2 separate regions of the Homo sapiens genome follow, and region 2 is linked to region 1. The links come from fine-mapping of genetic effects on gene expression. A gene starts in region 1. The other region holds a variant in brackets. All regions are shown on one strand. Distances are from middle to middle.

The links. PIP is the estimated chance that this variant, and not a neighbour inherited with it, causes the effect. A credible set is the group of variants that fine-mapping cannot tell apart.
Region 2: its variant is the best candidate, but not a certain one, in a credible set for the expression of WEE2-AS1 in thyroid (GTEx, PIP 0.87).

Annotation. Positions count from the first base shown.
Region 1 is chr7:141,735,468-141,740,849 of GRCh38, forward strand. It overlaps WEE2-AS1 (WEE2 antisense RNA 1), which reads right to left and starts at 2,575. Exons shown (of 4, transcript NR_199841.1): 1 at 1,916-2,575. SSBP1 (single stranded DNA binding protein 1) reads left to right here and starts at 2,891. Exons shown (of 7, transcript NM_003143.3): 1 at 2,891-2,943; 2 at 3,657-3,723. The coding sequence starts at 3,700. RefSeq lists an enhancer at 1,908-2,793.
Region 2 is chr7:141,714,288-141,719,669 of GRCh38, forward strand. It overlaps WEE2 (WEE2 oocyte meiosis inhibiting kinase), which reads left to right. Exons shown (of 12, transcript NM_001105558.1): 2 at 1-118; 3 at 1,935-1,980; 4 at 4,785-4,957. All of the region lies in intron 3 of WEE2-AS1 (WEE2 antisense RNA 1), which reads right to left. Among named protein-coding and RNA genes, the nearest start is that of WEE2, 8.6 kb to the left of the region's middle. RefSeq lists a silencer at 828-1,028. The variant C/T (reference allele first, on the strand shown) is at 2,349.

The DNA of each region.
Region 1 (5,382 bases):
CTCACTCTGTTGCACAGGCTGGAGTGCAGTGGTGTGATCATGGCTCACTGAAGCCTCAACTTCCCAGGCTCAAGCGATCCTCCCACTTCAGTAGCTGGGATTATAAGCACATACCACTATGCCTGGCTAATTTTTTTTTTTTTTTTTTGAGACGGAGTCTCGCACTGTTGCCCAGGCTGGAGTGCAGGGGCACGATCTCAGCTCACTGCAAGCTCCGTCTCCCGGGCTCTCGACATTCTCCTGCCTCAGCCTCCCTAGTAGTTGGGACTACAGGCACCCACTACCACGCCCAGCTAATTTTTTGTATTTTTAGGTAGAGACGGGGTTTCACCGTGTTAGCCGGGATGGTCTCGATCTCCTGACCTCGTGATCGGCCCGCCTTGGCCTCCCAAAGTGCTGGGATTATGGGCGTGAGCCACGGCGCCCGGCTGCCTGGCTAATTTTTGTATTTTTTACAGAGACAGGGTTTTGCCATGTTGCTCAAGCTGATCTTGAACTCCTGGGCTCAAGTGATCCACCCCCTCAACCTCCCAAAGTGCTGGGATTACAAACATGAGCTACTGGACCTGGCCAAAATTTTTTTAATTAAACATTTTTTTTTGTTTTTGTCTTTATTTTTAATTTTTGTGGGTTCAAAGGAAGTGTATATATTTATGGAGTACATGAGATATTTTGATACAGGTATGCAACGTCAAATAAGCACATCATGGGGGATGGGGTATCATCTTAATTTATCCTTTGAGTTACACACAATCCAATAACACTCTTATTTTAAAATGTACAGTTAAGTAATTATTGACTATAGTCAACCTATTGTGCCATCGAAAATAGTAGGTCTTATTCGTTCTATTTTTTTGTACCCATTAACCATCCCCACCTTCCCTCCAGCCCCCCACTAACCTTCCTAGCCCCAATTTTTAAAAATACATAAGTACACATATACACAGGGGTGCATATTCTTCCTTGTGCCTCAGGCTCCAGTCTGGCTTGGATCCTGTATTCAGTTAAAATTTTAATACAGTCATGCACTTCATAATGATGTTTTGGAAAAAGACTGCATATACAACAGTGCATATACAAAGGTGGTCCCATAAGATTACAATGGAGTTGAAAAATTCCTATCGTCTAGTGACATCATACCTGCTAAAACATCAGAATGCAATGTATTACTCATGTGTTACTTGATATTAATAATGACTATGTCACTGGTTTATGTATTTACTATACTTTTTATTATATTATTATTTAACTTATTTTTTAAAAGTTAACTGTAAAACAGCCTCAGGCAGGTCCTTCAGGAGGGATTCCAGAAGAAGACACTGTTATAGGAGATGACAGCTCCCTGTGTGTCACTGCTTCTGAAAACCTTCCAGTGGGACAAGATGTGGAAGTGGAAGGCTGAGATTGATCATAATGACCCTGTGTAGGCCTAGGCTAATGTGTGTGTTTATGTCTTAGTTTTTTTAAAAAATGGCTAAAAAGTTAAAAAAAAAAAGAAAAAAAGCAAAGGTAGAAAAAAGCTTGTAGAATAAGGATATAAGAAAAATATTTTTGTACAGTGGTACAGTGTGTGTTTTAAGCTAATTGTTATTACAAAACAGTTAAAACGTAAAAAAATTTGGAAGATTTATAAAGTTATAGTGAGTGAAAGTTTATTAAAGGAAGAAAAGTATTTTTTATAAACTGAGTGTAGCCTAAGTGTACAGTGTTTATGAAGTGTTTAGTGGGTACAATAATGTCCTAGACCTTCATGTTGGGCCACCACTCACTCATTTACTCACCCACAGCAACTTCCAGTTCCGCAAGCTCCATTCATGGTAAGCGCCCCATACAGGTGTGCCATTTTTATCTTTTATACCGCATTTGTACTGTACCTTTTCCATGTTTACATATGTTTAGACACACAGATACTTACCATGAATTACAATGGTCTGCGGTATTCAGTACAGCCCCATGCTGTCAGGTTTGCAGCCTGGAAGCAGCAGGCCACACCACAGAGCCGAGGTGTGTCCAGGCTCCACCATCTAGGTCGTCAAAGTACATTCTGTGGTGTTCGTACAGCAACAAAATCGCCTAATGACGCAATCCTCAGACCTTACCCTGTTGTTAAGGTACACATGACTCTTATTTTGTTCCTCCCGGATTTCCTGCATTAATTTTTACTTTTTAAAATATTACATTAATATATTATTTGATTGCCAGTTTTTCTGGTGCTCCCTTAAATTGCACAGCCTGCCAGCCCTTCCCTGGCTCCCCTTTCTTTTTCTGCTTTTCTTAGTGCTTCAACAGACCTGGGACGTTCTTTTTCTTTCTTTTTTTTTTTAATTTTCTTCTTTTTTTCTTTTTCTTGTTTTGTTTTGTTTTGTTTTGAGATAGAGTTCGCTCTGTTGCCCAGGCTGGAATGCAGTGGTGCGTTCACGGCTCAATGCAGCAACGACCTCCAGGGCTCAGGCGATCCCCCGACCTCAGCCTCCGGAGAAGCTTGGACCACAGGCGCGCGCCACCACGCCCAGCTAATTATATATTTTTTGTAGAGACAGGTCTCACTATGTCGCCTAGGCTGGTCACAAATGTTGCTTTTTTTTCCCTCCAGGCAGAGCTAGTCTCTGTTTTGCCTACCTCGCCCCCTCCTGGGCCCAGTTAGAAACCTCATCACATAATTTCATTTCTTTCCAAACTTGAAACCTTCTAAACTTGAAACCTTCTAAACTTGAAACCTTCCAAACTCACCACTTGGCGGCGTTGATCCATCCGCCCGCGCACAAAGAGAAGATCGCGGAACTTCAGAGTTAAGGGGAGCCGTTTCCCGCAGCGCTAGCCGGCAGTATTTCCAAGGCGCAAGTTGCGGAGTTTCTGTTTCCTTTTTCCTCTGGCGAGCTTTGCGTTCCCTGTGCGCCGGAAGTGATCCCCTGCGTGGCTGGGCTGCTCGGGTTAGATCGTCAGGTGAGGGAGGAAGGGATAGCCAGCGCGAAGGAAGTGCTGGAGTCGTGTGTTTTGGCTGCGCGTGATCCTGCGTGGGTCGGGAGGTGTTTCTGTGTAGGTGTCTGGCCCTTTCATCAGTCGTGCGGAGGACCGCGTGATTTCCTTCCAGTTCTCCTCGGTTTTCAGGTGGTGGCGCCATCTTCGGTAAAGGGTGTCCACCTCTCCCTATGGTGTGGCTGGCTAGCCCGGGGGTCTCTACGCTGCTTGGTCTTTGTTAACGGAGATGAAGGCAGTAATTTTTCAGTAACAGGTTTCAGATATAAGTCCCTTGGTGATGCTAATATTTATGGAGGCCTTACTATGCATTAAGAACTTTTTTAGAAGTTTAGAAAATGGCAGTGAATAAAGCAGATACAAATCTCTGCTCTAAGGGAGCTTGCATAGTAATGAAATTTGAGAAGACAGTGGATTGGAAGTGGGATTAACTCAGAATCAAAATTTTGTCGATGGGTTGGAGGAAGAGGAAGTTATTTGGGACCAAAAAGACATACAGGTGTGAGTTTATTTGGGAGGGAGGAAGGAATCCTCATCAGATGTGCAGGAATGTTGGTACGTTGTGGTCACAAAATTGGAGTGCATAAAAATTATGAATATAGTTAGGAATTTAGGACTGGTGAGTTGTACTTTTGCCATAAGAGGTAATGTTTTTTTCTTATTTTGTTTTTTTCCTTCAGGAAAAGCCTAAAGATTAGACTGTAAGAAAAGAAAATAGAAGCCATGTTTCGAAGACCTGTATTACAGGTAGTCACTTGTCTGTATTAATACTGAGATGTATTACTATCAGCCACAGTGATCAGAAGACTTCTTTAGGCTTTTAACTACAGGGGCAAAAGACCTTTGAGCTCACCCACCCACCTCTATACTCATTTGATATGGAGGATTGGGGACGATTTTGCCAGTGTAAATTATGTTCACTAAAACAAAAAAAAAGTTCAGGTTTATTCACACGTAATAGGAATCATTAATTTTTAAAATGTGTGTGTGTTGCTTGAATTTAACCAGTGAGAGGACATTAAAGGTCTTTAGTGACCTAAAGACTGTAGGAATCATTGTTCCAACTTTTTTCTTAAGGCATGTAGTTGCTTTTTTGACCATCTACCTCCTGTGTTGCTAAACGTTCCTCTTCCCCCATCTTTCCACACTGAAGAGAGCATCTCAAGTCTCAGTGGTCACCAGAGATTTCACTATGTAGAAAATGCCTTCTCATTCCACTTAGTATGGGTCCTCACTTTTCCAGACACTAGCCCACCTTGAGCCAGCTTAGACTACCATTTTTCCTCACTTACCACATTCGGGCACCAGCTCCTGTAGATTCTTCTTTGGCTCTCCTACTCCCCATCCTCCTGTGAAGACCAATGAAGAACCAGTTCCTCCATGACTCTGTCATTTTCCCCACCTTAATCCTATATTCTTGGATCCCCACTTTAACCTGTATGTATCTTTAATCTATTTTTTTCTGTATTGAAATGTGAAACATGAAAAAGTTATTGCTTCTTAACACTAACGTTACAGTATTAAAATGTCTTTAAATAAGAGTTAAAAGTTTAATTTAAAAAATTATCCAAGTTAAATAATCCTTTCCTAATCTTCTCCAGTAGATTTTTGTGTGCCCCAAATGAGACATTGTTATTATAAATCTCTGTGTAAGATTTATGAGGTCTAGCTTGTCTGAGCACTCAAATGACATTTCCAGAATCATGACACAGGTTCTCATTAGCAGTTTGATTCTATAGTATGTTGTACTCATATCTTTATTTTCTTATCTGCCCTCTGCTCCTAAGTTTAGTGATAGGATTAGATAGCCAACAGCACCCTGGGGATTGGTGTTTATTTGATTGGTGGACTTCTGCTTTTTATATTAACAGTACTGCCACTTCAAAAATGTTTCTCTGATAGAATGGCTAGCTCTCTGAGCTCTGAATTCAGTGATGTGTACTCCCATCTTTACAGGAGCTCTTGAAATTAAGGAGGCAGCAGAGGGCTTCGGGAAAGCAGTAGCATTGGTGTCAAGGGCCCTGGGTCCTTGAGATCACTTGCCACATACTTCCTGCAGGAGCTTGGGCAGGTGATGCAGTCTCTCTGAGGTGTTTTCTCAGCCCTAAATGGGAATAATTTTACATAACTTGTAGATTTAGTTTTAGAATTGATAATAGATAAATCCCTTAGCTGATATTCAGTAATGATTGCTGCTATTATGTGGTAGTGACTACCTTTGCTGACAGTGATGTGACTTTGACTTGGACAGTCGAGTCTTTGTGTTTAATCAAAGAACCAAATTTATTAGACCTTTTTTGATGCACTAAAAACAGGAAATTTCCTATGAAATATTTATAAAAACTGTATTAGGCTAAGCTCACTACTGAAGCTGTTTAATTTTTGCAATAGCCTTGTGAAGTAGGT
Region 2 (5,382 bases), 21 kb before region 1:
CTCCCCTCAAGGATGAGATGACCTCATTGGCTCTGGTCAATATTAATCCCTTCACTCCAGAGTCCTATAAAAAATTATTTCTTCAATCTGGTGGCAAGAGGAAAATAAGAGGAGATCTGTAAGTGCTCTATTACTTATGACTTTTGAGAACTGACCCTACTACAGTCAAGTAGTAAGAAGTGAGTGTTAAAGTAAGATTAGGAACGAGAACTCTATTTGAATGAAATGTATATGCTTACATATTCTCCCCTTCCTAGATATCAATGCTGGTTTTACCTGCTTTATCACAGAGATTCCAACATCTTTCCATTCTGATATGTACTGTAGATGCTTTCTCTATAAAAGGATAAGACAGAATAAGCAATAGATCTCTGGCTTCTATTAGGAAGTTGAGTGGGCTATGGAATTGCATTCAAGGGGTCCCCTCTGGTTAATATGAGGCTGGCAGTTGGGGAACGTGTAGCTCAAACTTCAAAGAGTACGTTGCTGCTTTGAGTCTTGTGTGACTAGTGATGAAAGCTATAGAGCAAGGATTTGAACTTCTCTGTGGGTGATGGAAGATTGGCTGAAGCAAAAAAGCATTGCTTTCAGAGCTGCTAAAGAATAGAAAGCCAAACTGTACTATTCCATAAAGGGCCCTGAATGACAGAAATCATCCAAATAAGGATTGTGCATATTACTCAGGAACATTACTATGTCTCTCCAAGGCTTTTTTATAGAATGGAATCGCCTCCAAAGTGGGGCAGTCATTTATGTTCATATGTACTCAGCGAAATAAATGGACAGCTAACAATGTAAACTTTGCAGAGCATTTAATGTGCTATGTCAAGTTGTTTCTTTGGAGTCAATGAGTATGTGTTAATCAGTCTTTGACCAGAATAGGTTCTCTCAACACTATCTCCTTCTTACTTAAATAAACAGGACTTCAGCACAAGTCCACCCACCTACTTTGGCTACCAAGAATTCGATTGGTTTTAGTTCTTAAGGAGTCTCTGTAAATCATTATACTCTCACCGAAGCCAGCAACAAAGACAGCTAATATGAAATCCTGACACTTTTGTAGCGTCATTTGGTGCTTCTAAGAGAGTATTTTTCCTTATTTTTATAATTTATAAACACTTCATAAAGTATTACAATGTGGTACTAAATCACAAATACCAAGCATTGATTTATTTCCATGAATGTAGTGCCTTCCATTTGCCATTTCTACCTTGTGTTTCTCCAAAAGAAAAATCTATAGCTAGTTGAAATCTTGCTTAAGGATCCAGAATACAAGTATGCATGGCAAAGAGGATGTCTGCTGGTCACTTAGCTTATCGAAGAGTAATTGAAAATATCTCATCCCGGGTTAGAGCAGATTCTGCCCTACTTGCAGTCTACCTGTGAACCGATTACAAAGCCAGATTCTAGGGGAGGGGTGGGTGTCGGAAAGAGAGTGTGGTGTGGCAGTGAGGAGCAAATGCTTTGGTGTCAGACCTGGCTCCAAGTCCCAGTTCTGCCACTTGCTAATTGTTTGACCTAGAGTTATTTAACCTCTCTCTGTCTTGGTTTCCTAGTTTGGGGATAAAGATACCCATTTAACAGTTGCACATATGTTCTGTGCTCTCTTGCTCCAGCACATGGTGTTTTACCTGCTGAAAACCTCACTCTTTTCCCTTAGCTAGTTCCTACTCGTTCCCAGAATCTTGGCTTATATATTCTCTCTTCTGGGAAAGCTTTTCACTCTTGAAATAATTGAGTGCTGTCCATGGTATCCTTGTTATCTTATCCAGTTCTAGGTTCTTGTATTGAAATTTCCTGGTTATCCCTGCCTCCACATATAAACCGAAGAGAAATGAATTGTCTTATTTACTCTTACATCCCTAGAACCTAGCATAGTTCGGCCTCAATAAATATTAATTATATATTGATAAACTTTTTTTTTCTTTTTTAAGTGAGGAAGCTGGTCCAGAGGAAGGCAAGGGAGGGCTGCCTGCCAAGGTAAGCGTAGTTCTTTGTCCCAGCGGCCACAATATAGGCAGTTTATCCTATTCTTTCTCTTCTTCCCCTCCCCTTCTCCCTCTCTCTCCTCCCTCCTCCCTTCTTCCCTACCCTCCCTTTTCTCCTTCCTCACCCTCCCCTCCTCTCCTTCACCCTGCACCCTCCCTCCCCTTCTTCTACCCTCTCCTTCTGCCCTTCTCCTTCTGCCCTCTCTTCCCCATCTCCCCTCCTCCCCTCCTTTCTCCTACTCTCCTTCTCTCCTCCCCTCCCCATCTCACCCCATCTCACACGCTAGCTTTGTAAATGTGCTTTGCAGCTGAATTTATCTGGACCCTAGTCAGGGTCTGTGTTCTCAGCTAGTTGTAACT[C/T]TGCCAGGCAGTGTCTGATATGTATATGCTGGATCATTACTTTAGAGTAATTTTAAAATTACATATTTCTGCTACTATTTTAATCTGGAGAAAAACTCTACACTCATGGGGTAGAGAAGTGAAGGGAAAATTAAGATATTTTTGGTCTCAAAATAGAAAAAGATAATGGAAAAAAGGGGCATAGAGCCAGAGATTTATATGTAAAATTTTAGCTCTTAAATGTATCAATATTTGATTTTATAATGTTCACAATCTTTGATCCATCCCTCATTTGATAATCTAACCTAAGAAAATAATACTGCAAACATTATCCTTAGAGATGTTTATTGTAACAGCAAAAAAGGGGGGAGACCAAATGCCTGATAATAGAAAAATGGCTAAGCTAATTACAGTTTTAAGTCAGTGAAATACTAAATTGCCATTAAGATGTTTATAACACCTTGAAAACATGCGTATGTTAATGTTTAGTGTGCAAAAGACTCAAAATTTTATACGCTGAATGACCATAACTATCTATTGCACATTAATCACAGGGAGAATGAAATGGAGCTATAACCACTGCTATTTCAACATTTTTGAATGGTGGAAACTTCATATTTGTTTTTCCTTTAAATTTTTAAAGTTTTCTGAAGCAAGTTTTATTTGCGTAAATAAATATGTTAATATGTTAAAATGTTAGCACTTGGCTATTGTAAACATCACAGAAAAGGCGGCCACTGGCACAGGTGTTCCTTCAAATGCAAATGTTTCTGACTTATGCCTCCATTATTTTACTGTTGGATTTTATTCCTCACTTATTTTATAATTTATCTCTTGATTTCAGATAGAAATTCTAATATTTATTGAACATTAAATAAGTGCAAAGCATTGTATTTAGTTACACCCTTTAAGGAAAAACATCTGGCCAAACAGGAGTTAAAACCTTTGAAATTTCAAAACAATCTATATGTAAATTAGAAGCTATGAGATATATGTATTTGTGTATATGTGTATGTACATATGTGCAATGTGAATATACATATGCGTGTATATCTTTAAAATCTAGAAGTGGTTAGTAAATACTTCTATGAAATAGAGCTTGGGTAGGAAGAGATTGTATATTAAGATAATTTTAGGCTAAGGAAGTAAATAACTTTTAATGCTATCAAGGCAGGAGAACAGAGTTCAGGTGTAAGAGGGGTATGGTGGGTGGGGAGTGGTCAGGGATAGATGCAGATGGTATACTGGCTTCATTGGTATCTAGGGGGAGGGTAGTCAAGTAGTGAGTGCGCAGTTGGTAGAAGGTCTTGAGGCTTTCTTATCAAGAGTTTGAATTTCTCATGGGAAACAATTAGGCATCTCTGATTCTGTGGTATCATTTTGCAAAAATAATTCTTACTATTAGAAGAGTTAAAGAGAGGGCTGGTAGCTGTAGCCAATCCAGACAAGAAGGGAACAGAGCTTGAGACTGGCTAAGGGTAATGAAAATTAAGAGATCTTGCTGATGAAAGTGACCAGAATTAGATGTTGAAAATGAGGAAGTAGTAAAACCCAAGATTTTTCAAACTCATAAAGTTGGAGAAAAATTCTTCAGGATTGGGACACTGAGAAAAGATGACTTTGGGAGATAAATCAGCTTGGATTTAGATTCATATAAATTTATGGAGATTTTTGGTCATAATAGTTTAATGAGAATTTACTATGTACTTGACACTATCCTAAGATATATTACAATATATGTAATACTGTATATTCTCATGTAATATTTAAAAGAACCCTGAAGAGTGTTGCCATGATCTTCATCCTACAGATAGGAAAACTGAAAGGAGTTCAGATTGGCCTGGGGTTATTTACTACCTGGGCAATGAATGATGTTGCTAGTTGGCCAGTAGCGGGAGTGGTTGCTAGACCTGAGCACATAGTCTGAACTAACCAAAATTGTCAAAGTTTGACAATTTTGACAAAATCATTTCTCCAGGCTGGTATTTTTGGGAAAAGAAACAGAAAACAAGTATGCTTATTCAGCTTGAGATGGAAACATTAGCATTCAGACTTTAAGACACATAAAGAAGGGGGGTCTTTCATTTCTTTTAATTTGCTCCACCCAGGTCCCAGTTATTCTTTGAACTAAGGACAGTAGCTCTGGGAGTGAGAAGTTGTGTCCCCTTAGGAACATGTAGAAAAGAACAGTATGCCCAGATAGAGAAAAGAATATTGAAAAATAAGTGAGAATTGTCAGTATAGGGTTGTACAGAAGGTTACAAAGAAAACAAAGAAGATAGTCAGCAATTGGGGAGATTCTTGCTACCATGAATATTGACCCAAGTAGAATTCATTGCAGTCACCTCAAAAGTCTTTTTGAAAACTTGGAGCAACTTAGGACTGTAATACTGTTTAATTTTATTGCTTACAACATGGTAGAATTACTCTAATTTCCTTTTTATTAAAATACTTTAGAGATGTGTTTTACGAGAAACCAACATGGCTTCCCGCTATGAAAAAGAATTCTTGGAGGTTGAAAAAATTGGGGTTGGCGAATTTGGTACAGTCTACAAGTGCATTAAGAGGCTGGATGGATGTGTTTATGCAATAAAGCGCTCTATGAAAACTTTTACAGAATTATCAAATGAGTGAGTACCTTTGAAATGCACTAAAAATATAAACTTAGATTTGGAGAGTTGTTTCTTGTCAAATTATTTTAAATTAAAGCACCGATGTCATTAAAAATCATTTGTGTTTTAAAATCACCCCACATTATATGTTATCTCATATTCATAACCTTTCTGAGTTTTCCAGCTCAGAGATGTTACTTCCTAAAATACAACACGATCATTTTAGATCATGATGTGTTTTTGTTTGTTTGTTTGTTTTCTGTCACCAGGCTAGAGTGCAGTGGTGTGATCTTGGCTCACTGCAATCTCCACCTCCTGGGTTCAAGTGATTCTCCTGCTTCAGCCTCCTGAGTAGCTGGGACTACAGGCGCGCACCACTACACCTGGCTAATTTTTGTATTTTTAGTAGAGACAGGGTTTCACCATGTTGGCCAGGATGGTCT